3 linked regions of the Homo sapiens genome follow. The protein of the gene in region 1 purifies or fractionates together with the protein of each later gene. This does not show direct contact. Each region holds a gene or a part of one and is shown in the gene's direction. Other genes may lie near its edges. The genes, in order: PHF10, PBRM1 and BCL7A.

Region 1 (11,028 bases):
CTGCCTACTCTTAAGGTTCTAGATTGTCCATAATGTAATACTCTGCTATTTTCTGAGGTTAAGTGGATTCCAGGTGCATTATAAAGATCTCAGATCCTAGCAACACTTCTCACTGTCAATCCAACGTCTCTCTCACTGCTTCTCCAGATTGGGTGAGATATCCCCCTTTGTCCTCCATAATATCTTCTATTATTGCCTTTCCTCTAACATAAAACTCCTTTCCTCCTTTTCTTCCCCAATAAGCTATGTTGAGACCTGTACCAAGAAAACCTCTGCCCTGCTATCATCAGCCTCTTTCCCCTAGGCTCCTCCACCTAGGCTGTACTTCACCACGATCCTATAAAAGGGTAGTATCACCTGACCCCACTAGACTATCATGCTAAGTATTCAGATACATAACTTTTGAACCACTTGCCCACTGTGAAGATCACTCACATAAAATATCACATAAACATTTCCTTCAGTCCATCGGCTCACTGCAAGCTCCACCTCCCAGGTTCACACCATTCTCATGCCTCAGCCTCCTGAGTAGCTGGGACTACAGGCGCCTGCCACCATGCCCGGCTAATTTTTTGTATTTTTAGTAGAGATGGGGTTTCACTGTGTTAGCCAGGATGGTCTCGATCTCCTGACTTCGTGATCCATCCGCCCGCCTCGGCCTCCCAAAGTGCTGGGATTACAGGCGTGAGCCACCGCGCCCGGCCGGAACTTTCTTTATATGGTTCATCAGGCTCCTCTATATTCCCAACCTCTCTTCCACATGCATTTTGAGTTCCTTTCCTTAAAAGCAATCTGACTTTTCCCTGAAGAGGAGTGCCACTGCAGCCCTCTCAAATGAAGGCTGTTTTTTTCCTCTCAATCTTTGATGACTTACAGCCAGGAGTTAGCGTAGGTAACCCCTTTGACCTTAAAAAAAATTCTGGCTCCTGAAAATGTATGCTATCTGAATATATAATCTTTTACCTGTTGATTTCTGCTGCCTGTAGTTCCTGGCTTATTCCTCCCCATCACTTGAAGACTTGAGCTACTGGATTATATAATCTTCATCCCCACCCAACTCCTGTCATCTTTCCTTGGGACTTCAACATCCACATAGATGAGCCATCCAAAACAAGGCAGTCCTCACTTTGCACAGTTCTAGTATGCACTGTGCAATTTTCACTTTCAGAATATTCAAGCAAATTTCATTTACTGTGGTTTAGTTAAATAATACCAGTTCCCCAACAAGGTGGTTCACATTTCAATTATGATTGCATATTAACTTTATGTGAGGAATTGCATAAAGAAGAAAATTCACAGCTAGCTCTTCAGTTCACAGATCACTATGTAAATAACAGATGGGCACTGTCTTAGCTTGGGCTAATATAATTAAATGCCTTAGACTGGGTTGCTTAAACAAATATTTTTTATTGAGGTTCTAGAGGCTGAAAGTCTGAGATCAGGGTGCCAACATGGTGGTTCTTGGTGAGGGCCCTCTTCCTGGTTATGTCCTTACCTGGTCTTTCCTTGGTGGGGGTGGGGGCAGGGGAGAGAGAAAGAGAAGGAATATGAATCTTGTATCTCTTCTTCTTTTTGAAAGGATATTAATCCCCATCATGGGGACTCTGCTCTCGTGACCTCATGTAAATCTAATCACCTCCCAAAGTTCTCACTTCCAAATACCATCACACTGGGGATTAGGGCTTCAATTTATGAATTTGCAGGTAAGGCACAAACATTCAGTCCATAGCAGATATCACAATCCTTCTTTCAGAGTCTGTCAGTTATTGGTCACTGCACAACTGTTACTCAGTTTTTCAGTTTACAAGCAGCAAAGCATGTAGTTGTATAGCTTCCTTGATTCCCAGTGATAAACTAACATGATATTTTACAAAAATGGATCATTAAAAGGGAATTGGCCAAGAAAGATGAAAGTACAGCAAATAAAAAAATAATAATGCAGAAATGAAATTAGATGTGATTAGGGAATTTGAAAATGACAAAAGCAAAGCAAAGATAGGATGAGACCTCGGCCTACACAAAAGGCACCATAGAAGCCATAGAGAAAAAGTTCAGTAAGTAGAAAAAACAAGGTAAGTTGCTTCAGGATCTTTTGGTTTAAATTGCACTAGAAAGAGAATGCAAATTATGGCCGATATAAAGACTTTTTCCTGCTTTTGACTGAAGACTGTAATAAATTTAAATTTTTTCCCAATCAGTCTGGCTAGCATTCGGGTGAAGTGTTGAAGTTGGTTGTCTTGTTGAAAGAAAATGATAATTACAAAGAGACTAAATAAAAACCTTATTCAGCCAGTAAATTCTGGTTTCATCATTTTATGAATTGATTAATGTTAAGAGATTAAAGTGGCTGTGACAAAAGGGTGAAGAGGTCCACAGGAAGTGTTGCTGATACACTTTGTATTAAAGAATTCCTGAGAATAGTTCACAAGATTGAAAATGCAAAGATAAAATGTTGGAAGCTAATCTAAACTTAGAATGCAGAATAACAATTTTTCAAGACAGAAGATTAATAGTATGAGAAGAGGCAAACAGTTCACACTACTATTGGTAAGTTGTTTTGTTTTCTTTTGTTTTTCACAAAGAATAAAGACTGATTCTCCATGTTTCTCATGTTTTAAATTATGGCATACTAAATAAATTAGTTTTACAATTTAAAAAATTCCTGATATGTCTACGTAGCAGTAACAGAGTTTTTGATGTTTCAACAAAAGTTCTTAAGTGTCACAGAACAATTTTAATTTTTCTCTTTGATTATTAAGATCACTTTGCACAATTTCAACTTCCATGGTCATTTTTCTAGTCATGTTCTACCATGCCAAGCTAGGACTGGCTGTATGCTTTCTAATTCCTTAACCAACTCACATTCAGTTGCCTTTTACCCCTCTAGACTTTGCTGTCGCCAATATTAGTATGACTTCTGAAATCTTTATTTCAAGCAAGTTATTCTCATGCAATCATTTCCTGTCCTTCCAGCTCACCACCTCTAGTACCCCGAAGACAGCCATTCTCTAATCTTATTGAAATCTCCAGTTCATTGGCTTTTTTCACCATTTATAGCCCTCAAATTTCCTACCTTGTCCAGCTTAGATATCATGGCTCATCATTATAATCACTCCTTTACAAACAGACTTCAATTTCTTTGTCCCTCTTCCTCACCTGGAAAACCCCTTCCTGAATGAACCCCATTATCCACTTTGTCCAAGCCTGAATCCAAGTAGGTAAACTTGACTGAGAACCTGACAAAGCCAGACCGAGTAGTTTCACTTTAAATTCATGACCATAACTCTCAAGAAGGCAAAACACTTGGCATCCTGGAAACTTTGCTTTCCTGCTGACACACCTCCTTCTTCCTCAGATCTTCTGTATCTCTCTCCCCTACACAACTGTCAGCTGATTTTCCCTTTATATTTCATGAAGGAAAGAAAATATATCAGAAATAAAAATCCTTCAAGTTGGCTGGGTGCAGTGGCTCACGCCTGTAATCCCAGCACTTTGGGAGGCCGAGGCAGGCAGATCATGAGGTCAGGAGATCGAGACCATCCTGGCTAACATGGTGAAACTCCGTCTCTACTAAAAATACAAAAAATTAGCCAGGTGTGGTAGCGGGCACCTGTAGTCCCAGCTACTTGGGAGGCTGAGGCAGGAGAATGGCGTGAACCCAGGAGGTGGAGCTTGCAGTGAGCCGAGATCAGGCCACTGCACTCCAACCTGGGCAACAGAGTGAGTCTCTGTCTCAAAAAAAAACAAAAAAACAAAAAAACAAACCTTCAAGTTTTCCACTCACCTGCTTGCAGCTGCGACCACCTTCTGTCTTTCCTGTTAAATTGGGTGGATTCTGCTTCCTGTCTAATACCTGTGCTCTGGAGCCCATTTTTCCTTGCCTTCTCACAAGCTGCCTTCCAGTAGCATTTCCTCTCTCTGCTCAATCATGGTTTTCTGCCTTCCTACTCAGTCATTCTTTTCAGTATACCAACATGTGCTAATGTCTTCCATCTTAAAAACATCCCTACCACCTCTCCAGATACTCTCTTTCTCCATTACTTTTTATAATAAAACTACACAGAAGAGTTGTCTATACTCTGGCTCCAATTCCTAGGCTTCCATTCCTCCCTTAATCTGCTTTAATTTAGTTTCTGAAACCACCACTTTGCTGAAATAGCTTGAAACAGTCAAGACAGTTAATTACCTCCAGGTTGATAAATACAATGTATTCTTCTCTGCCACCTTACTAACTTCTCCATTAGGAGAGCTGACCAGTCCCTCTTTTAAAACACTCTCTCCTTTCAGTTTACAGTACTTTACACTTAGTTTTCTTTTTTTTCCTTCTCTATCTTACTTCCACAAGTTGAGTACCTTTGGACTTCTTGGTCTTGGGCCTTATTTTCACGTATATCTGCATAATCTAAGTGGTCTCATACGGTTTCATGCTTTTTTCCCCCTTATCAGTATTTCCAGGGCCTAACTCAGGGTGTAACTTAGTAAACAGTAAGGCATTCATTTGATGAATGAATGAATAAATGGTTTTTTTATATCTTCATCATTTAACATAGTTCTTAGTTAATACTTGGCTTGCCATAAAATATTTGTGGAATAATTGGACATTATTGTTATCATACAAATGAGGAAATGGAGGGTCAGAGAGATTAACTAATTTACCTTTGATCACACAGCTAATAAGAGGCACAGCTGGGATTTAAACCAAAGTCTTAACTTGAAATCTTTGTTCTCTCCATTACATCATAGTACCTCCCTACATATTTCATCCTTAACTCCTAGAATCCATCTTCATTTATCTCATTCTTATGCCAAACTGGAACGATTGATGTACCTGAATATGTCTATTTTCCCACCCCTCAGCCTGTTTGGGGCTTGAAACCCAATTTCTACTTCCATTGCACATCTACCTGTGTCTTTCTTACCTGTCTTTAAAGCAGTTTTCAAATTCTAGGTCAACCTTGAAACCTCCATTTTTTTTAGTTGGTAGTAAACTCCATTTTTTTTTTTAGTTGCTAGTTGTTTTCCCACCTAAGCTGCCTTAAAGTACAATTATATATTCGTACCATATTGTATTAGTGTTGAAGCTGCCTATAGGCAGGGATCTAATCTATACAGTGTCTCCTTAATATTCTTCTTTGCCTTGCACATTGGAAGACTGAATCAGTTATTTGTTGACTCCAGAATAAATTTGCATTTGATCTTGTCAACCTAAATAACAGACAGGTTTGCCAAACATGACAAATTTATTTGAAAGTGGGCATTGCAATGTAGAATATGGTGTCATAGTAAACTATAGGTGTATTCAGGGAGGTAAAGGAAGATAAGGGGTTTAAAAGGAAAAACGAGGAGGATTACGTAAGTTGTTTTGAAACAATTATCCTTGGCTACAAAGATCAGTAACAAAGGGGATGGCCAGTCCAAGGTTGGACAGGCAGTTGCTGCGCAAATGTCCTTGAAGCATTTTTTTGTGTAGTTTTGTGGCCTTTGTGCAAGGTTGTGGTTTTGGCAGTCTTTTGTGCTAATTCTTTATATCAGGCAATTATTAGTGAGAACTTTCCCATCACGGCTTTCCCTGACTCCATTCTCTGACAGCTTTCACAATCTAGAGACAGAATCCCGGAGGGAGAGGAGTACCAAATAGCTTAAGAGTTTTTTTTTGTTTTTGTTTTTTTTCTTAAAAAAAAAACCGCTAAACTCTACCCTGATCAGTGAAAAGAATTTAGCTGAAAGATGCAGTTTCTTCTTGGCAGATTCAGACAAGAAGTGCGGCGGAAGCTTACACCTGCACGTGGTGGGACAGAGGCAAGAACGGATGGTCTGGCTGAGGCTGAGAGAACCAAGCTGGATTAGGATCGGCTTGAGGGCCCGGCGTCGTCAGTGGTGACCTCTCTGACCTGAGGCAAGTGAGTCAGGCTGGACTGAGCGTGTTAACGTCGGTGTTTGTCAATGTGACGCGCTAGAATAATCCCTTTATCTTTCCCAACTTTTGTTTGTTGAGTGTAGGCAACTATAATGAATGGAAAGGAAACCGGATTGTACTTTAAATCCGAGAACATTCTCTACTCTCCAGAACAAGTCATCTGCAGGCGCAGGCAGTGGAATCCGTGAGGCCAGCTGTACGGCGGGCCGCCCCGGACCCAGGCTTGGCTCCTCACTTTCCGCTGTTTTTAGTGCGGTCCTACAAGTGCCCTGGTGCAGCCCGAGATCAGTAATAAATGCAGCTGAAATACACCGGCTCCCACGTTCTCGCGGGGGTACCTGCCAGGCCGGCGTCCACGCTCCTCCCCGGCTCCCGGCCGACCGCGTTCTCGGCGGAGGCATCAACCACGCGGGCACGCAAAGCCACGAGGGCCGAATCTCAGCGACTTCTTCCCGCTGTGCCTCCCGCACGCTCCGGGGCGGGCGCCGACAGCCCCCGGGTGCAGCTGCGGATGCTCGGGGAAGCGTGGCCTGGGCAGGTGGCTCCGCTGCTCTCTCGGAGCGCCACCAGCGAGAGGGGCGACCCGAGAACAAAGGCGGGAGAGGAGCGGCGACCGCGAGCGCGTAGAGGCGGAGGCCGCGCAGTCTCCGCGCGACTGCTCCGGGCAGGGCGACCCCCGGCAGAGAGGGGGCGGGGCGGGGACCCCCGGGAGGGGCGGGGAGGGGCGCGGCGGGGGCGCGGAGAGAGGGAGGGAACGAGGGTGACGCGCGGAGGGGCCGGGCCGGGGGCCGCGGGGAGGGGGCGGCTGCGAGCGCGCCAAGTGGCGACGTGCCGGGCCGGGGCGGGCCGGAGGGCGGGCGGGAGGTGGGGCGCGCCGGGGGCTGGGGGGAGCCGCGGCCGAGTACAACGCCGGGCCGTGGGGAGCCAGGCGGCGGCGGGGCTGAGGCGGCCGCGGGGCTGAGGGGAGCGGCGGGGCTGAGGCGAGCGGCGGGGCTGAGGCGAGCGGCGGGGCTGAGGCGGCCGCGGGGCTGAGGCGAGCGAGCGGCGGGGCTGAGGCGAGCGAGTGGCGGGGCTGAAGGGAGTCGCGGCGGCGCTGAGGCCAGCGGCGGAGCTGTGGGGGGCAACGGTGCTGAGGCGGTGGCCGCGGCCGGGCGGGTTGGGCTGACGTGAGAAGCGCCGCCGCCGCTGGGCCTCCTCCATTCCGGCCCGCAGCCCCGCGCCCTCCCAGCCTTTGGCGCCCTCCCGCGCGGGCGGCGCGCTGGCGACGGCCATGGCGGTGGCGGCGGCGCTGGCGGGCCGCGGGGCGCGCGGCGGCAGGGGCCGGCCCCCGGGCGGGCGGGCGGAGGGGGCGGGGCCGGGGCGGCGGGGGGCCCGCGCGGCGGCGGCGGCGGCGGCGGCGGCAGCGGCGGCGGCGGCCGGGACAAGGCGGAGGCGACGGCGGCGGCGGCGGCGCGGGGCGCTCGGGCTGATGGCGGCGGCGGCCGGGCCCGGGGCTGCGCTGTCCCCGCGGCCGTGCGACAGCGACCCAGCCACCCCCGGAGCGCAGTCCCCGAAGGTGAGGAAGCGGCCGGTGCGACCCGACCCTGACCCCGTCCCGGGCCTGGGTGCCGGGGCGTGGGCCCAGTCCCACCGGCGGCCGCCCAGCGTCTCGGGGGCGTGGGCCCAGGCCGGGCGCCGCGCCTGAGACCGGGGGTGGTCGGCGAGGCGGGGCCCCGAGGTGAGCCCGCGGCCTCTAGCGAGCAACAAGTGCGGGCGGGCGGGGGACGCGGCGCGGCTTCCCCGAAGTTGGCAGCCGGCCCTGCTTGACAAGCTTGTCCCCAAAACGCCTCCTCCTAGGCCAGCCGTGGGACGGAACGCGCCCGGGGCCGAGAGAGTTGGCCTCGGAGGGGCCTGCAGAAGCGCGCGTTCGCTCAGCGTTCATTCCGCGCATAGTTTGCCGAAGTGTTTGAACGCTTACTGCAAAAACCGAGTGGCGAACGATATGGAAAATCAACACACTCAGTGAACTTACTGTAATAACTAAGTTAATACGCAAGCGTCCGGATGTTTTCAGCGGAAGTCTGTTAAAACTTTTTACTGCTTGAGGAGGTGAAAAGAAATTGGTGCTTGTGGAGAAAATGGAGATGAGCAGTAGTGTCACGCATCAAAACGTTTTGGTTCTAAAGTTAGGCTAGCAGTTTGTGACAGAAAGTTGGAAGGGAGGAATGATGTTTTAAAAGCCTGGAAGCTTGAAATTGGATTGAAATTAGAAGGCGGTGGGAACTGGAATGCTGCAGAGCCAGCCAGCCTTCGTGCGGTGCGCGGTGTGCCGTGTGCGCGTTGGCAGGGGAAGCCGTCCTGTAGCAGCCTAGCCGGGCTGCGCCTGCTTGGGAGCTTTTCCCGTTGCGCACGTCCACCGTGCTGTGAGACTCATTTTGAAGGTTCCTCAAAGGCTGTCGTCAATGGAAGTAACTAGATTGTAAGACTCTGAATGCACATCCTTGCACTTCCAGCATTTGACGTCTGGCCCGGCACCTGGAGGGCACTGAGCCAGTGCCCCCTGAGTGCATTCTTGACCCCTGAGCCCTAGGAAGGATGTGATGCATAGAAATTCATCTGATCTGTAGTTGGAAACCACCTGTAACTCTGGAAGGCACATCTCTGATTTAGTATGTTTGGGAGTCTTTGAAAACATGGGCCTCTGTATCAGTATTGCGGTTACACGGAAATTCTTACCTTATTCCGTCATGTATTGGGAACAATATTGCTGTTACTACCTCCCTCAAGAAAAAGGCCCGCTGCCCAGATGCTCACTTTATATAATAATGCCTTTGCCTAGAATTTGTAGTAGTAATTTAAAACACTTGATGAAATTGTAGTCTCAGCTTTTTTGAGCACTTTGCATTTTTAACTTTATTTTTGTATATTTTTGAGTGTCTCAACTTTTTAGCTAAAGGAAAATGTTTTTAAGTTTAAGGATATAAAAATCCTTAAAATGCTCACCAGTAAAATAGAAAAAATACTGGAATGTTTAAAATGAGTTATGTTGAAAGTATTGAATATGCAGTGTTGCAGTTGTATGCAGATACTTATGCAAATTTTCAGAGAGTAGATTTAGACTATGCAAAGCTCTTTAATGAAATGCTTATTTTATAAGGACTGAAAAAGAATATATATTTTACTATTTGGAAAAGAACCAGTTAATTCCTAGGAGCTAGAGACATTTGAGACTTTATTATCATCATAATCATCATTTTAACTAATATTTATCAGATAACTCGCCAGTCCTTGTTCTAAGTACTTTTAATATAGTAGCTCGTTTAATCATTGAATTAGCCATGTAATGGGGCACTATTATAGTCTCAAATTTTCGGATAAGGAGATGCTCACAGAGAATAACCTACTCAGCTAGTGAGGGACAGTGCCCAGTGAGAACCCAGGCCGTCCAGCTCTGGCATGCCTGGCCACTATACCATATTGCCTCTTTATATTCTTTTGCAGGATTGCTTTCATTTTAATATGTAGCAAGAGGACTATAGTATTTAGCAAAATTGGATTAGCGTTGAAAGCTATATTACATTAAAAAATTATGATTTTTAGACTTTAAGCCTTGGCTAATAAGTAAATAAATCAATTTCCTAACATCTGATACTTTTTCTGAATGAAATGGTTGAATTTATAACCTTGATGTTCTTGCCACATAATGGATTACATTAAAAATATATAATCTTCTTTAAAAAAAAAATTCCCCTCCCCCTCTCAAGCTTCTTTTTTTGGTGTGTGTGCTGCTATATTATAGATTGATGACCCTTATTAGGGTATATTTTTGCTAAATTTTAGCAGTGTAAGAGGAAGAGTGAATAGTTAGAATTGTTTTCGGTCTCATATGTCCCCTTTTCACAGGGACATAAATGCCTAAAGTAGTCAATTAAAATAGTCCTATGAACCGGCTTCAAGTTGAATTGAGAACTGTAAATGATCCATACATTTTTTTCCCCCTGAGCTTGGGTAGGAGAGTTTGCTTTAATCCTAGAGTGATGCAGCAGTTTGATATGTTTATGAAGAGCAGAAACCAAAGCAGATTTGCATTTACGGGTTCATTGAAAATGTTCTTATTTGGATTGGATTGAAGATCAGTTTTAAATTTTATTCCAGGTCTTGCTCATGCCAAACTCTTGGACCCTTTTAATTATAATATGAAGTTAATACTTGTATGACTAGTTGTCCTTAGACAGTCTTTCATTTATTGAGACTTACTGTTCTTTTATTCTTTCTCTAATTATTATTTTTGAATCTTTTAAATGTATAGGATGATAATGAAGATAATTCAAATGATGGGACCCAGCCATCCAAAAGGAGGCGAATGGGCTCAGGAGATAGTTCTAGGAGTTGTGAAACTTCAAGTCAAGATCTTGGGTACTGTCATTTTATCGGTTATTAATATTTTTTGTGATGTTCCTCTTTGCCTTAACATCCTCTTCCCTTTCCCCCAGCTCTGGCAAAGGCAATTATTAAAAATTGTAGAATATTTTCTTCCTGTTCTATAATGTGCCATCAAAGTTGGTCTTGCTACTGAGTGTAATTAAAAAGCAATTTTATGATAGTAAAATACATACATACATAAAATTAATCATTTTAACAATTTTTAAGTGTGAAATTCATTGGCATCAGTTACATTCACAGTGTTGTGCAGCCATTACCACCATCCATTTCCAAAACTTTCACTACCCCAAACTTTATAACCATTAAGCAATAACCTCCCTTTCTCCCTCTATTTAGCGCCTTGCAACCATCATTCTACTTTCTATTTCCGTGAATACGACTACTTAGTTACTTCATATAAGTGGAACCATAAAATATTTGTCCTTTTGTGGCTGGCTTATTTCTCTTAGAACTTTGAATATCTTCAAGGTTCATCTTTGTAGCATATGTCAGACTTTTTTTCTGTTTTTAAGGCTGAATAATACTCCATTTTATGTATATACTGATTTTGTTTATCCATTCAGATGTTGATGGGCATTTGGGTTTCCACCTTCTGGCCAAGGTGAATAATGCTGCAGTGAGCATTGGTGTTCAGAGTTTGTGTTTTCAGTTTTTTTGGATGTTTATCTAGGAGTGGAGTAGCTGGATTA
Region 2 (8,671 bases), on another chromosome or scaffold:
TAGGGGATTCATTGAGCTCTTTTGGTGACTCAGCTCAGATTCTCACCGGCTGCCCAAGTATGGCATTTGTCAATAGAGGAAGCAGAAGAGTTTGCTGATTTGTGCTGCCCTGCAAAGCAATGATTTACACAGTTTAGGGAGCCACACCGTGTTCTGGAATCTAAGGTGGGTGAGTGTCCCAGGGCACAGGGAGGTGATGGGCACAGAGGTTAATAATATATTGCTGGGGCACCAGCTTACCCACCACAACCTCTTCATTCATTCACGAATAATCATCAGGATCCTACTTTGGTGATCCGGGTGGACTTCTGGGTACTTGGAATATAAAACTCCCTGCTTTTTAAACAGAAGCTTTTTTACTTGTTATTTTCTAACAAATAAGAGGCTCTCTTATGCTTCCTGGAAGTGGCATTTAACAATTCTGAACCTTAGTGCTCGCTTCAGCAGCACATACACTAAAATTGGAACAATATGGAGTTGAGCATGGCACAAGGATGACATGCAAATTCATGAAACAGTTCTGAACTTTAGAATGAGGAGCTGCTTCTGCCTGGACAAAATATTACGATTTTTAATCCGAAGGGACTATACACTATGAAGTTATACCTCCTCTCGATTCTTCTACACAGCCAGCAGGATTTGTTTAAGTTTTCAAGAACAGTTCACCACAGTTTTAGGTTTATTTGATTTTAATGAACTGGGTCCCTTGCCTATTTCTGTATTTTATCAGAATAGCAAATATGCACCCTGAAATCAAAAGAGCCTCTGACACTAAATTTAGGACATCTCATTATTATCAGCTGTGCCTGTGAGACAACAATTGCTCGTGAGCATTCACTGAGGGAAGCTTACAAAATTATTATCAGGGACATAGTACAAATCTAGTAGGGCCATGAAGTCTCTCTGTTCCTTTGTCATTTTGCATATAAAGCAATAGCAACAAGGTTACTTCACTTCAGATGATTCCTTTTCAGAGTGCTACTCTATCAGATGGAAGTGTTCTCTCCCTGCCAGCACTAGTGACTCCAGTTAGAACCAGCTGCTGATGGTCTGGGAGGGGATAGCAAGGCTGTGCCTTCAGCCTTCACAAAGCTCATTTAACTATGCACTTCCACAGCCTCTTCCCTTGTGTCCCTGCTGTCCTAGCACATTGCTTACTGCTGAGCCTGATTCCAGTGCCATTCCTGCTTAAATTAAATACAGGCTTCAGTTGCAGGAGAATGTGTTGTCAGAAGAAAAACACCTTGAATGTAGAGGTATATTCTGACAATAGCTTACCTAGAGAAATACTAGAATTTTATGCAAGGTTCAAATCATTTCTAAGCCATAATTGATGTACATCTGACAGATTGTTCTAGTATTATACTTTAAGTACCTAGAAACAAAACAACTTTCTATTCAAATCCTATTGGGGTGCTTAAGATTCCTAGCCACAAAGATTCAAGGGCAGAGGTACATAGGTTTGAATTATGAATGGCATCATTTCTTATCAGACAGTAGTTTTTCAGTCATTTCAACCCAGAGCCTCTAACTGTGCCATTGCATTCTGAATTATAGGTGTGATGAACCAAGGAGTGGCCCCTATGGTAGGGACTCCAGCACCAGGTGGAAGTCCATATGGACAACAGGTGAGCCTCCCAGTTTGATTTTCTAGGACTTGACAGAATTCGAGTTATCCTTCTCAGAACATGTGCAGAGTCTCTTTTTGCCTCACCATGTGGTCCTGTGCTCTTTCAGGTGGGAGTTTTGGGGCCTCCAGGGCAGCAGGCACCACCTCCATATCCCGGCCCACATCCAGCTGGACCCCCTGTCATACAGCAGCCAACAACACCCATGTTTGTAGCTCCCCCACCAAAGACCCAGCGGCTTCTTCACTCAGAGGCCTACCTGAAATACATTGAAGGACTCAGTGCGGAGTCCAACAGCATTAGCAAGTGGGATCAGACACTGGCAGGTAAGATTCCTTCTAAATAAGCCTTTGTGAAATACATGCTTCCTCAAAGCTGTCTTACTGCTGTTAGCATAGTATATCATACAATAAACACCCCTTTTTCTTATACAATTAAAATAAATTATATATTTCATAAATGGTTTGGAGTTTCTTTGCATGTTTACGTAACACACTGAAAATGGTTTGTTTTGTTTTGTTTTGTTTTTGAGACAGGGTCTCACTCTGTTGCCTAGGCTGGAGTGCAGTGGCGCGATCTTGGCTCACTGCAGTCTCCGCCTTCCAGGTTCAACTGATTCTTCTGCCTCAGCCTCCCCAGTAGCTGGGATTACAGGCACATGCCACCACACCTGGCTAATGTTTATATTTTTAGTAGAGATGGGGTTTCACCATATCAGCCAGGCTGGTCTCAAACTCTTGACCTCAAGTGATCCACCTGCCTCGGCCTCTCAAAGTGCTGGGATTACAGGCGTGAGCCACTGTGCCTGGCCTGAAAATGGTTTTTGGGTTGTTTTTTTTTTTTTGAGACAGTCTCACTCTGTCGCCCAGGCTGGAGTGCAGTGGTACAATCTCGACTTACTGCAACCTCCGACCCCCAGGTTCAAGCGATTCTTGTGTCTTAGCCTCCTGAGCAGCTGGAATTACAGGTGCTCAGCACCACGCCCAGCTAATTTTTTTATCTTTAGTAGAGATGGGGTTTCGCCGTTTTGGCCAGGCTGGTCTCGAACTCCTGACCTCAGGTGATCTATTCACCTCAGCCTCCCAAAGAGCTGGGATTATAGGCATGAGTCACAGCGCCCTGCCTAAAAGTGTTGTTGTGGTTTTTTTTGCCAAATTTCAAAGCCTAGTTTTCTCATAAACATCACTGCCATCTTTTTAAGTACATTGTTTTTTGTTTGTTGTTTTGTTTTGTTTTGTTTTGTTTTTCAGGCATTTGGACATTAGTATAGATGCATTGGGTAAATTAAAAATTATTGGCCAGGCACGGTGGCTCCCACTTTGGGAGGCTGAAGTGGACAGATCGATTGAGTTCAGGAGTTTGAGACCAGCCTGGACAACATGGCAAAACCCCGTCTCTACAAAAAAATTAAAAATTAGCCAGATGAGGGCCAGGAGCGGTGGCTCACGCCTGTAATCCCAGCACTTTGGGAGGCTGAAGCGGGCAGATCACTTGAGGTCAGGAGATCAAGACCATCCTGGCCAACATGGTGAAATCCCATCTCTACTAAAAATACAAAAATTAGCTGGGCGTGGTGTCTGGTGTCTGTAATCCCAGCTACTTGGGAGGCTGAGGCACGAGAATCATTTGAACCCGGAGGTGGAGGTTGCAGTGAGCCAAGATCGCACCACTGCACTCCAGCCTGGGTGACAGAATAAGACTCTGTCTAAAAAAAAAAAAAAAACTATTTTACCTCAGTTTAACAAAAGGAAAAAAATATTAGAAACCGATTAGGCTATTCATTTAGTTCAACATACTTATGTATTTTCAGTATGTACTAAAGTACTTGTGTAGTTTCTGGAGAGAAGTTTGGAAGTTTCTACTTGTTCTTGATTTCTAAACCAACTTTGGTCATCTCATTTCATTTCTTTAGAGTAGAAGGTATATTTTCCCTTTCTTCACATGTTTACCTTTTTAGGAATTTTTGTTAACATTGAAGTAATTATTAAATATCAGGGATGCCTACAAAAAAATAATGATCAGGCCGGGTGCAGTGGCTCACACCTGTAATCCCAGCACTTTGGGAGGCCAAGGTAGGCAGATCACCTGAGGTCAGGAGTTCAAGACCAGCCTGGCCAACATGGTGAAACCTGTCTCTACTAAAAATAGAAAAATCAGCCAGGCTTGGTGGCAGATTCCTGTAATCCCAGCTACTCTGGAGCCTGAGGCAGGAGAATCGCTTGAACCCAGGAGGTAGAGGTTGCAGTGAGCTGAGATCGCGCCACTGCACTCCAGCGAGGGCGACAGAGCGAGACTCGATGTCAAAAAAAAAAAAAAATTTATGATCAAATCTTTTAGTGCCTAGTAAAATGATATAAGAAATGTGCCTGGAAATATTCTGCAGTTAAAATTCATAATATTTAATAAATATTCAATGTTTTGTGTTTTAATAAGTTCGTCAGACCTTAGAACTGAGGGAAATTTTGCCAACTTAAAATTCTAATTTCTGTCTCTCTGTACTTTAATTTTCAGCTCGAAGACGCGACGTCCATTTGTCGAAAGAACAGGAGAGCCGCCTACCCTCTCACTGGCTGAAAAGCAAAGGGGCCCACACCACCATGGCAGATGCCCTCTGGCGCCTTCGAGATTTGATGCTCCGGGACACCCTCAACATTCGCCAAGCATACAACCTAGAAAATGTTTAATCACATCATTACGTTTCTTTTATATAGAAGCATAAAGAGTTGTGGATCAGTAGCCATTTTAGTTACTGGGGGTGGGGGGAAGGAACAAAGGAGGATAATTTTTATTGCATTTTACTGTACATCACAAGGCCATTTTTATATACGGACACTTTTAATAAGCTATTTCAATTTGTTTGTTATATTAAGTTGACTTTATCAAATACACAAAGATTTTTTTGCATATGTTTCCTTCGTTTAAAACCAGTTTCATAATTGGTTGTATATGTAGACTTGGAGTTTTATCTTTTTACTTGTTGCCATGGAACTGAAACCATTAGAGGTTTTTGTCTTGGCTTGGGGTTTTTGTTTTCTTGGTTTTGGGTTTTTTTATATATATATATAAAAGAACAAAATGAAAAAAAACACACACACACAAGAGTTTACAGATTAGTTTAAATTGATAATGAAATGTGAAGTTTGTCCTAGTTTACATCTTAGAGAGGGGAGTATACTTGTGTTTGTTTCATGTGCCTGAATATCTTAAGCCACTTTCTGCAAAAGCTGTTTCTTACAGATGAAGTGCTTTCTTTGAAAGGTGGTTATTTAGGTTTTAGATGTTTAATAGACACAGCACATTTGCTCTATTAACTCAGAGGCTCACTACAGAAATATGTAATCAGTGCTGTGCATCTGTCTGCAGCTAATGTACCTCCTGGACACCAGGAGGGGAAAAAGCACTTTTTCAATTGTGCTGAGTTAGACATCTGTGAGTTAGACTATGGTGTCAGTGATTTTTGCAGAACACGTGCACAACCCTGAGGTATGTTTAATCTAGGCAGGTACGTTTAAGGATATTTTGATCTATTTATAATGAATTCACAATTTATGCCTATAAATTTCAGATGATTTAAAATTTTAAACCTGTTACATTGAAAAACATTGAAGTTCGTCTTGAAGAAAGCATTAAGGTATGCATGGAGGTGATTTATTTTTAAACATAACACCTAACCTAACATGGGTAAGAGAGTATGGAACTAGATATGAGCTGTATAAGAAGCATAATTGTGAACAAGTAGATTGATTGCCTTCATATACAAGTATGTTTTAGTATTCCTTATTTCCTTATTATCAGATGTATTTTTTCTTTTAAGTTTCAATGTTGTTATAATTCTCAACCAGAAATTTAATACTTTCTAAAATATTTTTTAAATTTAGCTTGTGCTTTTGAATTACAGGAGAAGGGAATCATAATTTAATAAAACGCTTACTAGAAAGACCATTACAGATCCCAAACACTTGGGTTTGGTGACCCTGTCTTTCTTATATGACCCTACAATAAACATTTGAAGGCAGCATAGGATGGCAGACAGTAGGAACATTGTTTCACTTGGCGGCATGTTTTTGAAACCTGCTTTATAGTAACTGGGTGATTGCCATTGTGGTAGAGCTTCCACTGCTGTTTATAATCTGAGAGAGTTAATCTCAGAGGATGCTTTTTTCCTTTTAATCTGCTATGAATCAGTACCCAGATGTTTAATTACTGTACTTATTAAATCATGAGGGCAAAAGAGTGTAGAATGGAAAAAAGTCTCTTGTATCTAGATACTTTAAATATGGGAGGCCCTTTAACTTAATTGCCTTTAGTCAACCACTGGATTTGAATTTGCATCAAGTATTTTAAATAATATTGAATTTAAAAAAATGTATTGCAGTAGTGTGTCAGTACCTTATTGTTAAAGTGAGTCAGATAAATCTTCAATTCCTGGCTATTTGGGCAATTGAATCATCATGGACTGTATAATGCAATCAGATTATTTTGTTTCTAGACATCCTTGAATTACACCAAAGAACATGAAATTTAGTTGTGGTTAAATTATTTATTTATTTCATGCATTCATTTTATTTCCCTTAAGGTCTGGATGAGACTTCTTTGGGGAGCCTCTAAAAAAATTTTTCACTGGGGGCCACGTGGGTCATTAGAAGCCAGAGCTCTCCTCCAGGCTCCTTCCCAGTGCCTAGAGGTGCTATAGGAAACATAGATCCAGCCAGGGGCTTCCCTAAAGCAGTGCAGCACCGGCCCAGGGCATCACTAGACAGGCCCTAATTAAGTTTTTTTTAAAAAGCCTGTGTATTTATTTTAGAATCATGTTTTTCTGTATATTAACTTGGGGGATATCGTTAATATTTAGGATATAAGATTTGAGGTCAGCCATCTTCAAAAAAGAAAAAAAAATTGACTCAAGAAAGTACAAGTAAACTATACACCTTTTTTTCATAAGTTTTAGGAACTGTAGTAATGTGGCTTAGAAAGTATAATGGCCTAAATGTTTTCAAAATGTAAGTTCCTGTGGAGAAGAATTGTTTATATTGCAAACGGGGGGACTGAGGGGAACCTGTAGGTTTAAAACAGTATGTTTGTCAGCCAACTGATTTAAAAGGCCTTTAACTGTTTTGGTTGTTGTTTTTTTTTTAAGCCACTCTCCCCTTCCTATGAGGAAGAATTGAGAGGGGCACCTATTTCTGTAAAATCCCCAAATTGGTGTTGATGATTTTGAGCTTGAATGTTTTCATACCTGATTAAAACTTGGTTTATTCTAATTTCTGTATCATATCATCTGAGGTTTACGTGGTAACTAGTCTTATAACATGTATGTATCTTTTTTTTGTTGTTCATCTAAAGCTTTTTAATCCAAATAAATACAGAGTTTGCAAAGTGATTTGGATTAACCAGGTTTGGTTGTTCTGTTAAAGTGGTGTCAGATGTTTCAAGCAGATTTAACTCCTGCAAGCCCTGATTTCATGCTGACAAGGTTGTATGTGACTGCCAATTTAAGAGAACAAAGCTCCACAGATGGAGATGAAAGTCAGTGTCCAGACCTCTGGTTCAGGGCTCGGGCTGCATTAACACAGAGCCAAATGTAGTCAGACTGCAGACTGAAGTGCCCCACGCCACGCCTCAGGCTGGCAGTCAAGGAATTCCTACATGTCCTCAGCATGGGCAGAAATGCAGGTTGAAATTAAAATTGGAGAATTACTGAGGGCGGAAAGTGAGGAAAGCATGTAAGCAGTATAGCCCACTTCAAATAGCTTGTCTGTGGCCAGAAGAAACAGGTGGCCCAGGTGTCTTTAACATCTTTATAAACTCTTAAAACATGACCATGCTTTTAATAGAAAGTGTTGGTAAAAGCAACCAACTGTTTTCCTCTAATATCACTTTGCAAATCCCTGTGGTTCTGTTCTCCTGAATTTAGGATAGTACCGGCATCTGTGCCCCTGAGCATATTTTGAACAATCATTGATGTATAGCTAGACATCCCATCTGAACACTGAGCAAACAAATATTGCTATTATTCTGTTCCTTTTTTTTTTTTCTTTTGAGACGGAACCTCACTCTGTCACCCAGGCTGGAGTGCAGTGGTGCAACCTTGGCTCACTGCAGCATGCGCCACCATGCCTGGCTAATTTTTGAATTTTTAGTAGAGACAGGGTTTCTCCATATTGGCTAGGCTGGTTTTGAACTCCTGGCCTCAAGTGATCCACCTGCCTCAGCCTCCCAAAGTGCTAAGGTTACAGGTGTGAGCCACTGCGCCCAGCCTACTCTGTTCCATTTTAGCCTGGAAGTATGTTAGGTCCCTGAATGAAAGTTCAGAACTAAACAAATTAATGGACTGTCCCTTTTCCCTGTTTTGGCTATTTCATGGTATTTACATCTTGCAGATAGCACATAAATGAGACAAGAAACTCCAGATTTAATACTCGTGTGAAGACTAAGCACTAACATGCTTTACTAGGAGATAAATTACTTTGGAAAACAACAGGGTCCAAGAGTGTGTGTGTGCGTATATATATATATTTTTGTTGTTGTCGTTCACGCCATTCTCCTGCCTTAGCCTCCTGAGTAGCTGGGACTACAGGCGCCCAGCACCACGCCCGGCTAATTTTTTGTGTTTTTAGTAGAGATGGGGTTTCACTGTGTTAGCCAGGATGGTCTTGATCTCCTGATGTCGTGATCCGCCTGCCTCGGCCTCCCAAAGTGCTAGGATTACAGGCGTGAGCCACCGCGCCCAGCTAAGAGTATATTTCTTTAAAGAGAGTTAATTCAGTGTGAAAAATTTAAACACACACACAAAATGGAGATTAAATATCACATCAGGGATGTAGGTAAGACTTCCAAAATAGAACTGCTAGATGAACAAAAATAACTCATTTATTCACTACTTTTTTTCTTTCTTTTTTTGGGGGGGGCTGTAATACTGTTGTACTATTATTAGGTACTTTCTCTATAAATTCAGATAATAAAGTGACACTCCAAAGCCCATATTCTTTCCCCAACACCACAGTGGAGGTAGAGTTCTAGTAATAAATGCTAATCAGGTTTTC
Region 3 (10,624 bases), on another chromosome or scaffold:
GAGACTAGCCTGACCAACATGGAGAAGCCCTGTCTCTACTAAAAAATTTACAAAATTAGCCAGGCGTGGGGGCGCGTGCCTGTAATCCCAGCTAGTCGGGAGGCTGAGGCAGGAGAATCGCTTGAACTCAGGAGGCAGAGGTTGCGGTGAGCGGAGATTGCGCCATTGCACTCCAGCCTGGGCAACAAGAGTGAAACTATCTCAAAAAAGAAAAAAGATACAAAAAATTAGCTGGGTGTAGTGGCGGGCACCTGTAATCCCAGCTGCTCAGGAGGCTGAGGCAGGAGAATCGCTTGAACCTAGGAGGCAGAAGCTGCAGTGAGCCGAGATCGCACCACTGCACTCCAGCCCAGGCAACAGGGTGAGACTCCGTCTCAAAAAAAGAAAAAAGAAACGCACAGTGGGAGCCAGGCACAGTGGCTCACGCCTGTAATCCCAGCACTTTGGGAGGCTGGTGTGGGCGGGTCACTTGAGGCCAGGAGTTCAAGACCAGCCTGGCCAACATGGCAAAACCCCATCTCTACTAAAAATATAAAAATTAGCTGGGCATGATGGCGTGTGCCTGTAATCCCAGCTACTCAGGAGGCTGAGGCAAGAAAATCGCTTGAATCTGGGAGGCGGAGGCTGCAGTGAGCTAAGATCAGGCCACTGCACTCCAGCCTGGGCAAAGGAGCGAGACTCTGCCTCAAAAAAAAAAAAAAAAAAAAAAAAAAAAGAGCAGTGGGGCTTTGTTGCTGGTTAATGTGTCAAGAAAGCCCCCCCAACCAGCCATACAATCATAGTTGGGTTATGTTTCATTTTCAGAAATAGATATGTGAGCTGGGATGTGGCCTGTCTCAGTGGCATTCCTTAGCATCCCCTTTCCCTCTGGGGACTGGGGAGACCCCACGCCCGACTCAGGACTGAGGTTGGATTACAGACGCAGAATTACACCAGAGGGCCTTTTCGAGCTGAGGCCAGGACCCCACCTGGGTTCACATCCTAACTCTCCCTGCACCTTCCCCTGGCTGTGTGATCTTGGGCTATTTGTTTAACCTCTAGCTTTGGGGTTTGTTTAGTTTTAATCTGTAGAATGGGGATGGTAATGCCTACTTCATAAACTCACTGTGAGGATTAAATTAAATAATCTCTTAAAAACCTTGGCATGGGACCAAGCACAGTGGCTCACACCTGTAATCCCAGCACTTTGGGAGGCCGAGTTAGGAGGATCACTTGAGCCCAGGAGTTTGAGACCAGCCTGGGCAACACAGGGAGACCTCATCTCTACAAAAAAAACAATAGGTGGTTCGTATCTATAGTCCCAGCATTCTGGGAGGCCAAGGCGGGCAGATCATGAGGTTGGGAGATCGAGACCATCCTGGCTAACACGGTGAAACCCCATCTCTACTAAAAATACAAAAAAATTAGCCAGGCGTGGTGGCTGGTGCCTGTAGTCCCAGCTACTCGGGAGGCTGAGGCAAGAGAATGGCGTGAACCTGGGAGGTGGAGCTTTCAGTGAGCCAAGATCACGCCACTGCACTACAGCCTGGGCGACAGAGCAAGACTCAGTCTAAAAAAAAATAGATTAAAAAAAAAAATAATAATAATAATAAATTTAAATTAGCAGGTTGTGGTGATGCGCACCTATAGTCACAGCTACTCTGGAGGCTGAGGATCATTTGAACCTGGGAGTTGGAGGCTGCAGTGAACAGTAATTGCACCACTGCATTCCACTCTGGGCAACAGAGCAAGACCCCATCTCTTAAATATATATATATATATAATATATATATTATATATATTATATAATATAATATATAATATAATTATAGTAAATATTTTATTTTGGGCCAGGTGTGGTGGCTCATGCCTGTCATCCCAGCACTTTAGGAGGCCGAGATGGGAGGATCATTTGAAGTCAGGAGTTGGAGACCAGCCTGGTCTCTATGGTAAAATCCCATCTCTACTAAAAATACAAAAATTATTGGGTGTGGTGGCACACGCCTGTAATCCCAGCTACTTGGGAGGCTGAGGCAGGAGAATCACTTGAACCTGGAGGCAAAGGTTGCAGTGAGCTGAGATCATGCCACTGCATTCCAGCCTGGGCGACAGAGCAAGACTCCATAAAAAAAAAAAATTATTTTACTGTATTCAAAAATAGAGACAGGGTCTTGCTATGTTGCCCAGGCTGTTTCCAAACTCCTGAGTTCAAGCAATCCTCCTCCCTCAACCTCCCAAAGTGCTGGGAGTATAGGCATGATCCACTGTGCCCAGCCTATAATAAAAATTTTAAAAACCTTGGCATGTTAACAGCTCACATTTATGAAACCGTCACAATGTGCCAAGTATTGTGCTAAGCCCGTTACATCATTGCCTCATTTGAGTCTAATAACCAACCGCATTTTACAGATGGAGAAACTAAGGCCCAGTGAGGTGAAGTAACATGCATGGTTAGCAAGTTCATAACTTCCAGTGCCATTGATGGCATTTGAGGTTGGTTCTTTGAAGACAGAATCCAGGTTTGTGGCTGGCCGTGGTGGCTCACACCCATAATCCTAGGACTTTGGGAGGCCAAGTTGTGAGGATCGTTTAAGGTCAGGAGTTGGAGAGCAGCCTGGCCAAACAATGGTGAAACCCCATCTCTACTAAAAATACAAAAATTAGCCGGGCATGGTGGTGGGCACCTGTAATCCCAGCTACTCGGGAGGCTGAGGCAGGAAAATCCCTTGAATCGGGAAGGGGAGGTTGCAGTGAGCCAAGATTGCACCACTGCACTCCAGCCTGGGCAAGAGAGTGAGGCCGTGTCTCCAAAAAAAAAAAAAAAAAACCAAAAGATCCAGATTTGTGACCTGGATAAACTCTCCAGAAAAATCTAGGATGCTGAACAAACCAGGTCCCCAGACACAGGTGCCCTGTTGACTTTCTGATTTTCATTTTAGTGCACGTGCAGCCGAAAGCCAGTCAGACTGCAGAGTGTGTAAATGGGAAGGTCAGGGAAAGGTGTGGGCCGGGCAAGTTTTCTGGAAGGCTTCAAGTGGGAGGATGGGTACAGCAGGGGATGAAGGAGAGGGCGGTGCCCCGGGCCCTTTAGTCCACAAGACTCAGCTGAAGTTAGCCCAAGTATCAGGGTCACGCTGTTACCAGGCTACCAGGCTAGACCAGACGTTAAACATTAGTGCTCATTGTCATTCATTAACAGAGCCTCAGGAACCTACGGGGCCAGCCTCTTGCGCGTGTGCTTGCCATAGGAAGGAAGTCTAGTTTTTCTCAAGGGAGAAATCGGGGAGCACACATCCTTCTTTTTTTTTTTTAAGTCCCAGAATTCACAAGAGGATGCTTTTGTGTAACGAGCACCCCAGAGTACAGTTAAAATCAGATCCAGGTTACCCGTGTGGGGCCGCCTGACTGCCTGGTGCTTCCTCGGCAGGTTGAGGTAGAGGAGGGGCGTGGGGCTGGGAGTTGGGCAGATGGGTCCGGCAAGTGGCTCTGCTGCTCCCAGCCTCAGTTTCCCCCTCCGGAAAGTGAAGGTGGTAACGGTGCCTTTCCAACGGGTTGTGGGGAGGATTCCACGAGGTGTCCATAAATGCTTCTGCCCAGTGCCTGGCATGGTGGCAGGTGCCCAGGTCTGTTGGGGTGTCTCTGTCTCTTTCTCATGTTTACAAAAGTGGCCATCGCCCCGGGTGCAGCATGGCCCCCAGAAAGGCTGCTTTGGTTTTGAAACCTCCACTTGGGTCTCTGCTGTTTAAAACGACTCTCCTAGGTTGGGCACAGTGGCTCAGGCCTATGATCTCAGTGCTTTGGGAGGCCAAGACAGGAGGATCACTTGAGCCCAGGGGTCCAAGACAGCCTGGGCAACATAGTGAGACCCCATCTCTACAAAAAACTTAAAAATTAGCCAGATGCAGTGGCACATGCCTGTGGCCCCAGCTACTCAGGAGGCAGAGGCAGGAGGATGGCTTGAGCCTAGGAGTTCGAGGCTGCAGTGAGCTATGATTGTGCTGCTGTACTCCAGCCTGGGCAACAGAGCAAGACCCTGTCTCTAAAAATAAAAAATACATAAATGGCTGGGTGTGGTGGCTTACTCCTGTAATCCCAGCACTTTGGGAGGTTGAAGCGGGCAGATCACCTGAGGTCAGGAGTTCAAGAGCAAGCCTGACCAACATGGCGAAACCCCGTCTCTACTAAAAAATAATAAAAACAAAAGTTAACTGGGCATGTTGGTGCATGCCTGTAATCCCAGCTACCTGGGAGGCTGAGGCATGAGAATCGCTTGAACCAGGAGGTGGAGATTATAGTGAGCCGAGATCGCGCCACCGCACTCCAGCCTGGGTGACAGACTCCATCTCAAAAAAATAAATAGAGTGACTCTGTGCCTGAGAAGGGGGTGCAGGACAAGGGGAGGTGCAGCCCGGGCCCCAGCTCTGCCCCCAGCCCAACTGTAAATGCCATTGCCCAATTACCCCTTCTCTTTCTTCTTTGTATTGTGAAGGGTTTTGTTGTCAAGAACAGTAGAGAGAGGAATACGATCCCCCTGTACACTCCACCTTGATTTTCATGAACACGGTGCCACATTTGTCTCATCTATTTTTTCAATGTGTTAGATTTTTGTAATTAAAATATAATTCACATATAAAAAATACACAGCTAGTGGCCGGGTGTGATGGCTCACACCTGTAATCCCAGCACTTTGGTAGGCTGAGGTGGGCAGATCACCTGAGGCCAAGAGTTCGAGACCAGGCTGGCCAACATGGAGAAACCCGTCTCTACTAAAAAATACAAAACTCAGCCAGGTATGGTGGCAGGCGCCTGTAATCTACTTGGGAGGCTGAGGCAGGAGTATTGCTTGAACCCAGGAGGTGGAGGTTGCAGCGAGCCCAGATCGCGCCATTGCACTCCAATTTGGGCGACAGAGCAAGACTCCATCTCAAAAAAAAAAAAAAAAAGTGTAAAAGTTCAGGGAGTCCTGACAGTGGCCGGCAGCCTGCACTGAAGTATTTTCTGGTAAATTTCCCTGCCTCATGACATTCAAGTCTGCACCTAAACGTCATAGCATGCATTGCTGAAAATATGACGTTTCTACATACCCACTGTCCCATGATCACTTCTAACTAAATTAACAACAGTTCCTTAATAGCTTTTAAAACCCAGACCATATTCAAATTCCCCAATTGTTCCAAAGTGTTACAGCTGGCACGTTTGAAACAGGATCCAAATCATTTCCATACATCATATTTAGTCGAGTCTCCTAGCTTTCTTTATTCTAAAGTCATCTCCCCTCCCCCAACTTTTTTTTTTTTTTAAATATGATACTGACTTTAAGGGAGTGGACCACGTGTCCCGTGGAATATGCCACCTCCCGCTGTCTCTCTCTCCCTTTTATTTCCTATCAAGTGGAACTCAGCTCCAGGCTGGATGCAGTCAGACAGAACGCCTTGGCAATCCCGCCTCACGGACCATGCCGTGTCTTCTGTATCGCTTCCCTGCCAGACACACAAGACGTCTGGTTTCTACACCCAGAATGAGGCCTCAAATGTCCCCCCAGGATTTTAAATATGTTAGGCCACCATCCCCAGCTGGCTGCCTCCAGACGCAGGGTACAGTTGGCTCAGTGTGGGGAAGGTCAGGCCAGTGCCGGAATTCTTTGCCTCTCTGGACACATGGGATGGCTGTGGTGCTTGGGTGGGTGGGTGGGTGGGGGTCAGGGGGCGGGAGTGAGCTCAGGGGTCCCAGGAGGAGGCGTATCCAGTATCCAGACCCCTACCACACGGCCGGGTGCAGTGGCTCAACGCCTGTAATCCCACCACTTTGGGAGGCCGAGGCAGGAGGATTACCTGAGGTCAGGAGTTCGAGACGGGTCTGGCCAACATGGTGAAACCCCATCTCTACTAAAAATACAAAATTAGCCAGGCGTGGTGGCAAGTACCTGTAATCCCAGCTACTCGGGAGGTGGAGGCAGTGAGCCAAGATTGCACCACGGTCCTCCAGCCTGGTTGACAGAGCGAGATCCGTCTCAAAAAAAAAAAAAACGGTAACCAGACCCCTCCCCGGGAGAGCTGCCATGGGGTTCCGGGCATTGAGGCACAGGGATGCTGAGCCCTCTGACCTACCCGTCCTTGGCAGCTGTGGGATTTCATCCTGTGGTTCTGTTCCCACCCCCTACAGACGATAACAGCAACCAGAGCTCCATCGCAGATGCCTCCCCCATCAAACAGGAGAACAGCAGCAACTCCAGCCCCGCTCCAGAGCCCAACTCGGCTGTGCCCAGCGACGGCACCGAGGCCAAGGTGGATGAGGCCCAGGCTGATGGGAAGGAGCACCCAGGAGCTGAAGGTATGTGGCCTCTGGAGGTGGGGCTCTGACGGCCTCCCTGTAACCGGCCTTCAGGCAGTCTGTGGCTAGGTGTTCCAGGAGGCCCTGTCATGTGCCAGCCCCAGCAAGGAGACAGTAAAGAGAGGTGACACCTGGAGTACATGGTCTCGTGGGGGAATTAAAAAAATCAGACAGGCCAGGTGCAGTGGCTCATGCCTGTAATCCCTGCACTTTAGGAGGCCAAGGTGTGAGGACTGCTTGAGCCTAGGAGTTCAAGACCAGCCTGGGCAACATAGCAAGACCTCATCTCTACCAAAAAAAAAAAAATAGCCAAGTGTGGTGGCACACACCTGTGATCCAGCTACTCAGGAGGCCGAGGTCGGAGGATCACTTGAGCACAGGAGGTCAAGACTACTACAGTGAGCCATGATCATGCCTCCGCACTCCAGCCTGGGTGACAATAAGACCCTGTCTCAATAATAAGTAAATAAATAAAAATCAAACAATTGGCCAGGCATGGTGGCTCACACCTATAATCCTAATGCTTTGGAAGGCTGAAGCAGGAGGATCACTTGAGGCCAAGAGTTTGAGACCAGCCTGGATAGCATAGCAAGACCCTGTCTCTACAAAAAAATGCTTTAAGATGAGCTGGGCATGGTGGCATGTGCCTGTGGTCCCAGCTACTCAAGAGGCTGAGGCGGGAGTATCCCTTGAGCTCAGGAGTTGGAGGCTGCAGTGAGCCGTGATCACACAACTGAACTCCAGCCTGGGTGACAGAGTGAGACCCTGGCTCAAAATATAATTATATTAATAAATTTTAAATGTATTTAAAAATCAGACAACCTAGTATTAGGAAGATAAGTGTGGCAGAGAATTATAAAGTAGGAAAGGGGTGGGGGGTCTTGCTGAATGACCTGGAGAGTTGCAGTTTTAAATGGGGTGGTCGGGGCGGCCTTTGAATAAGACAAGGCTCAAACTGGGCGACTGAGCAAGCCATGTGGGGATCTGGGAGGAGAGCAGTGTGGGCAGAGGTAAGAGTGAGTGAGGAGCTGGAAAATAAGATGGGCACCAGGCGCGGTGGCTCACGCCTGTAATCCCAGCACTTTGGGAGGCCGAGGCAGGCGGATCACTTGAGGTCAGGAGTTCAAGACCAGCCTGGCCAACACGGTGAAACCCTGTCTCTACTAAAAATACAAAAATTAGCAGAGTGTGGTGGCATGTGCCTGTAATTCCAGCTAGTCAGGAGGCTGAGGCAAGAGAATCACTTGAACCCAGGAGGCGGAGGTTGCAGTGAGCCGAAATTGTGCCATTGCACTCCAGTCTGGGCGATAGAGCAAGACTCTGTCTCAGAAAAATTTTAAAAAGTTAATAATAATACGGGGTCAGACAGCAGGCAGCGCCTCAGGTGTGGGGGGCTCGTAAGGCCACTGCCTGGCCTGGGTTTTCATGGTAAGACGGGAGCCACTGGGGGCTTGGGTGACATGATCTGAAGGATTAAGAACAGATGATGGGGTGATTGTGTGAGAGTGTGTGTGTGATTGTGTGAATGTGTACACAAATATTTGTGTGTGTTTATTTTGAGTCTCTACAGAAAAATTAAAAGAATGGCATAATACTGTCCTATATATCCACCTGCTGAACTTGGCAATTGTTGGCTTTTGGGTTTCTTTTGCTTTGTATTTTTTCTGGGACCATTTGAAAGTAAGTTATAGATCTCAGGACATTTCATCCCTAAACATGTCAGCACGTGTCTTTTAAAAATAAAGACATTCTGGGCTGGGCACAGTAGCTTATGCTTATAATCTCAGCACTTTGGGAGGCTGAGGCAGGAGGATCTTTTGAGCCCAGGAGTTCAAGACCACCCTAGGCAAGAAGACGAAACCCCGTCTCTACAAAAAATATAAAAATGAGCCCGGCATGGTGGCATGCGCCTGTAGTCCCAGGAGGATCGACTGAACCTGAGAGGTCGAGGCTGCAGTGAGCCATGATTGCACCACTCCAGCCTGGGTAACAGGGTGAGACCTTGCTAAAAAAAAAAAAAAAAAAAAAAAGGCATTCTCTTACAGATTTACAAATACCGTTACTGCATCTAAGAAAATGAGCAGCATTCCGGATGGTCTAACATGGAGGTATATTTTGAAGGTGAGGGGAGAGCCTGTGTTGGGCAGTACATAGGGGTGAGTGCGGACCTGAGGGCAACTCTGGGCACCTGGAGGGACAGCAGTGGCTGAGCGGGTCTGGGGAGGGCAGGCCAGGTCTGGAGCGCCTTGCACACCCATGAGGAGCTGGCGAGCATGGAATGTGGAATGGCAAATGTGACCAGCCTGCAGCTAGGGCCACCCCAGGGCTCAGGGCGTGTGTGTCCTGGGAGCAGCCAGTGTGGTTCTAGGAGAAAGGCTGTCCCCTGCTGCAGAGCTGATCCGCACCCCTGTGCAAGGAGGCTCTGGGCTGGCGCCAGGGCCCCAGTCATAGCTGCACTCTGCTTCCTGCACCCCAAGAACCCATAGGTCAGCAGGGGAGACAGACACTGGAACGAAGGACTCATTGGCAGAGATGCAGACAGACTCTATCCAGCCCGTGGTGTGAGAATCTGGCTATACAGAACCCTGCAGTATCATTTTTTAAATTTGAATGTGATGTCAAAATTTAAAAATTGAGCTTAAAACAGGATTGATTTCTAGCTTCTTTTGAAGAATCAGCTTTGACAATACCGGGCCTGCTCTTCCCTGGGGCAGTTACCAGCTGAAGCAGAAGAGACCCTTCCCTGTTGTCTCTAAACCAAGGCCAAAGGGCGCTTGCCTTGTGTTACCTCATGGCCACTGTTGTTTTTCTTATTGTAGATTTTAAAAGGAAAATTAAGATATTTCTTGGGTTTTTTTTTTTTTTTTCCAGACGGAGTCTTGCTCTGTCGCCCAGGCTGGAGTGCAATGACGTGATCTCGGCTCACTGCAACCTCCGCCTCCCAGGTTCAAGTGATTCTCTTGCCTCAGACTCGTGAGTAGCTGGGTTTACAGGCGTGCACCACCACGCCCGGCTAATTTTTGTATTTTTAGTAGAGATGGGGTTTCACCATGTTGGCCAGGCTGTTCTCAATCTCCTGACCTCGGGATCCACCCACCTCGGCCTCCTAAAGTGCTGGGATTACAGGTGTGAACCACCACGCCTGGACTATTTCTTGGTTTTTGTTTGTTTGTTTGAAATGGGGTCTTGGCCGGGCGCAGTGGCTCATGCCTGTAATCCCCGCACTTTGGGAGGCTGAGGCGGGCGGATCACAAGGTCAGGAGATTGAGACCATCCTGGCTAACATGGTGAAACCCCGTCTCTACTAAAAATACAAAAAAATTATCCGGGCATGGTATTGGGCGCCTGTAGTCCCGGCTACTCGGGAGGCTGAGGCAGGAGAATGGTGTGAACTCGGGAGGCGGAGCTTGTGTTGAGCCGAGATCGCACCACTGCACTCCAGCCTGGGCGACAGAGCGAGAATCCGTCTCAGAAAAAAAAAAAGAAAAAAAGAAATGGGATCTCACTGTTGCCCAGGCTGGAGTGCAGTGGTACAATCTCCGCTCACTGCAGCCTTGAACTGCTGGGCTCAGGTGATCCTCCTGCCTCAGTCTCCCAAGTAACTGGGACTACAGACATGCACCACCATGCCCTGGTAATGTTTATAGTTTTTTGTACAGACGGGGTGTTGCTATGTTGCCCAGGCTGGTCTTGAACTTCTGGGCTCCAGTGATCCTCCCACTTTGGCCTCCCAAAGTGCTGAGATTACAGATGTGAACCACCACACCCAGCCAAGATGTTTCTTGAAGCTATTTCTCTATCAGAAGTGGAGGTGGAAAAGTGGAAAAGAAAAAGGCTGGAGAAGGCTTTTTTTTTTTTTTTTTTTTTGAGACGGAGTTTCGCTCTTGTTGCCCAGGCTGGAGTGCAATGGTGCAACCTTGGTTCACCACAACCTCCACCTCCCGCGTTCAAGCGATTCTCCTGCCTCAGCCTCCAGAGTAGCTGGGATTACAGGCATGCACCCCCACACCCGGCTAACTTTTTATTTTTAGTAGCGACAGGGTTTCTCCATGTTGGTCAGGCTGGTCTTGAACTCCCAACCTCAGGTGATCCGCCCGCCTCGGCCTCCCAAAGTGCTGGGATTATAGGCGTGAGCCACTGCGCCTAGGCTGAGAAAGCTATTTTTTTTTTTTAAGAAAACTGGGAAAGTACATATTTGAAGAGAGTATTTCTTAACATTTTATTTGTGAAGCTTATCTATGTCTGAATCCAACAGCCCACTTGACTCATTTGTGGTATTGCCTGGCCCCTCATGGGGCTTTTGAGTTCATAGTCA

The links.
Region 2: the proteins of PHF10 (region 1) and PBRM1 purify together in Homo sapiens (affinity purification with mass spectrometry; 2 studies listed by BioGRID and IntAct, with this or other methods). This does not show direct contact.
Region 3: the proteins of PHF10 (region 1) and BCL7A purify together in Homo sapiens (affinity purification with mass spectrometry; 4 studies listed by BioGRID and IntAct, with this or other methods). This does not show direct contact.

The regions. Positions count from the first base shown.
Region 1 is NC_000006.12:169,720,289-169,731,316, reverse strand, and holds the start of PHF10 (PHD finger protein 10), read left to right. Parts: upstream 1-6,816; 5' UTR 6,817-7,385; coding exon 7,386-7,472; intron 7,473-10,205; coding exon 10,206-10,312; intron 10,313-11,028. UniProt on the Homo sapiens protein: Involved in transcription activity regulation by chromatin remodeling. Belongs to the neural progenitors-specific chromatin remodeling complex (npBAF complex) and is required for the proliferation of neural progenitors.
Region 2 is NC_000003.12:52,543,704-52,552,374, reverse strand, and holds the end of PBRM1 (protein polybromo-1), read left to right. Parts: intron 1-33; exon of another isoform or gene 34-165; intron 166-1,557; coding exon 1,558-1,628; intron 1,629-1,737; coding exon 1,738-1,954; coding exon of another isoform or gene 1,955-1,974; exon of another isoform or gene 1,975-2,084; intron 2,085-4,139; coding exon 4,140-4,312; 3' UTR 4,313-7,008; downstream 7,009-8,671. UniProt on the Homo sapiens protein: Involved in transcriptional activation and repression of select genes by chromatin remodeling (alteration of DNA-nucleosome topology). Required for the stability of the SWI/SNF chromatin remodeling complex SWI/SNF-B (PBAF).
Region 3 is NC_000012.12:122,037,745-122,048,368, forward strand, and holds part of BCL7A (B-cell CLL/lymphoma 7 protein family member A), read left to right. Parts: intron 1-6,141; coding exon 6,142-6,309; intron 6,310-10,624.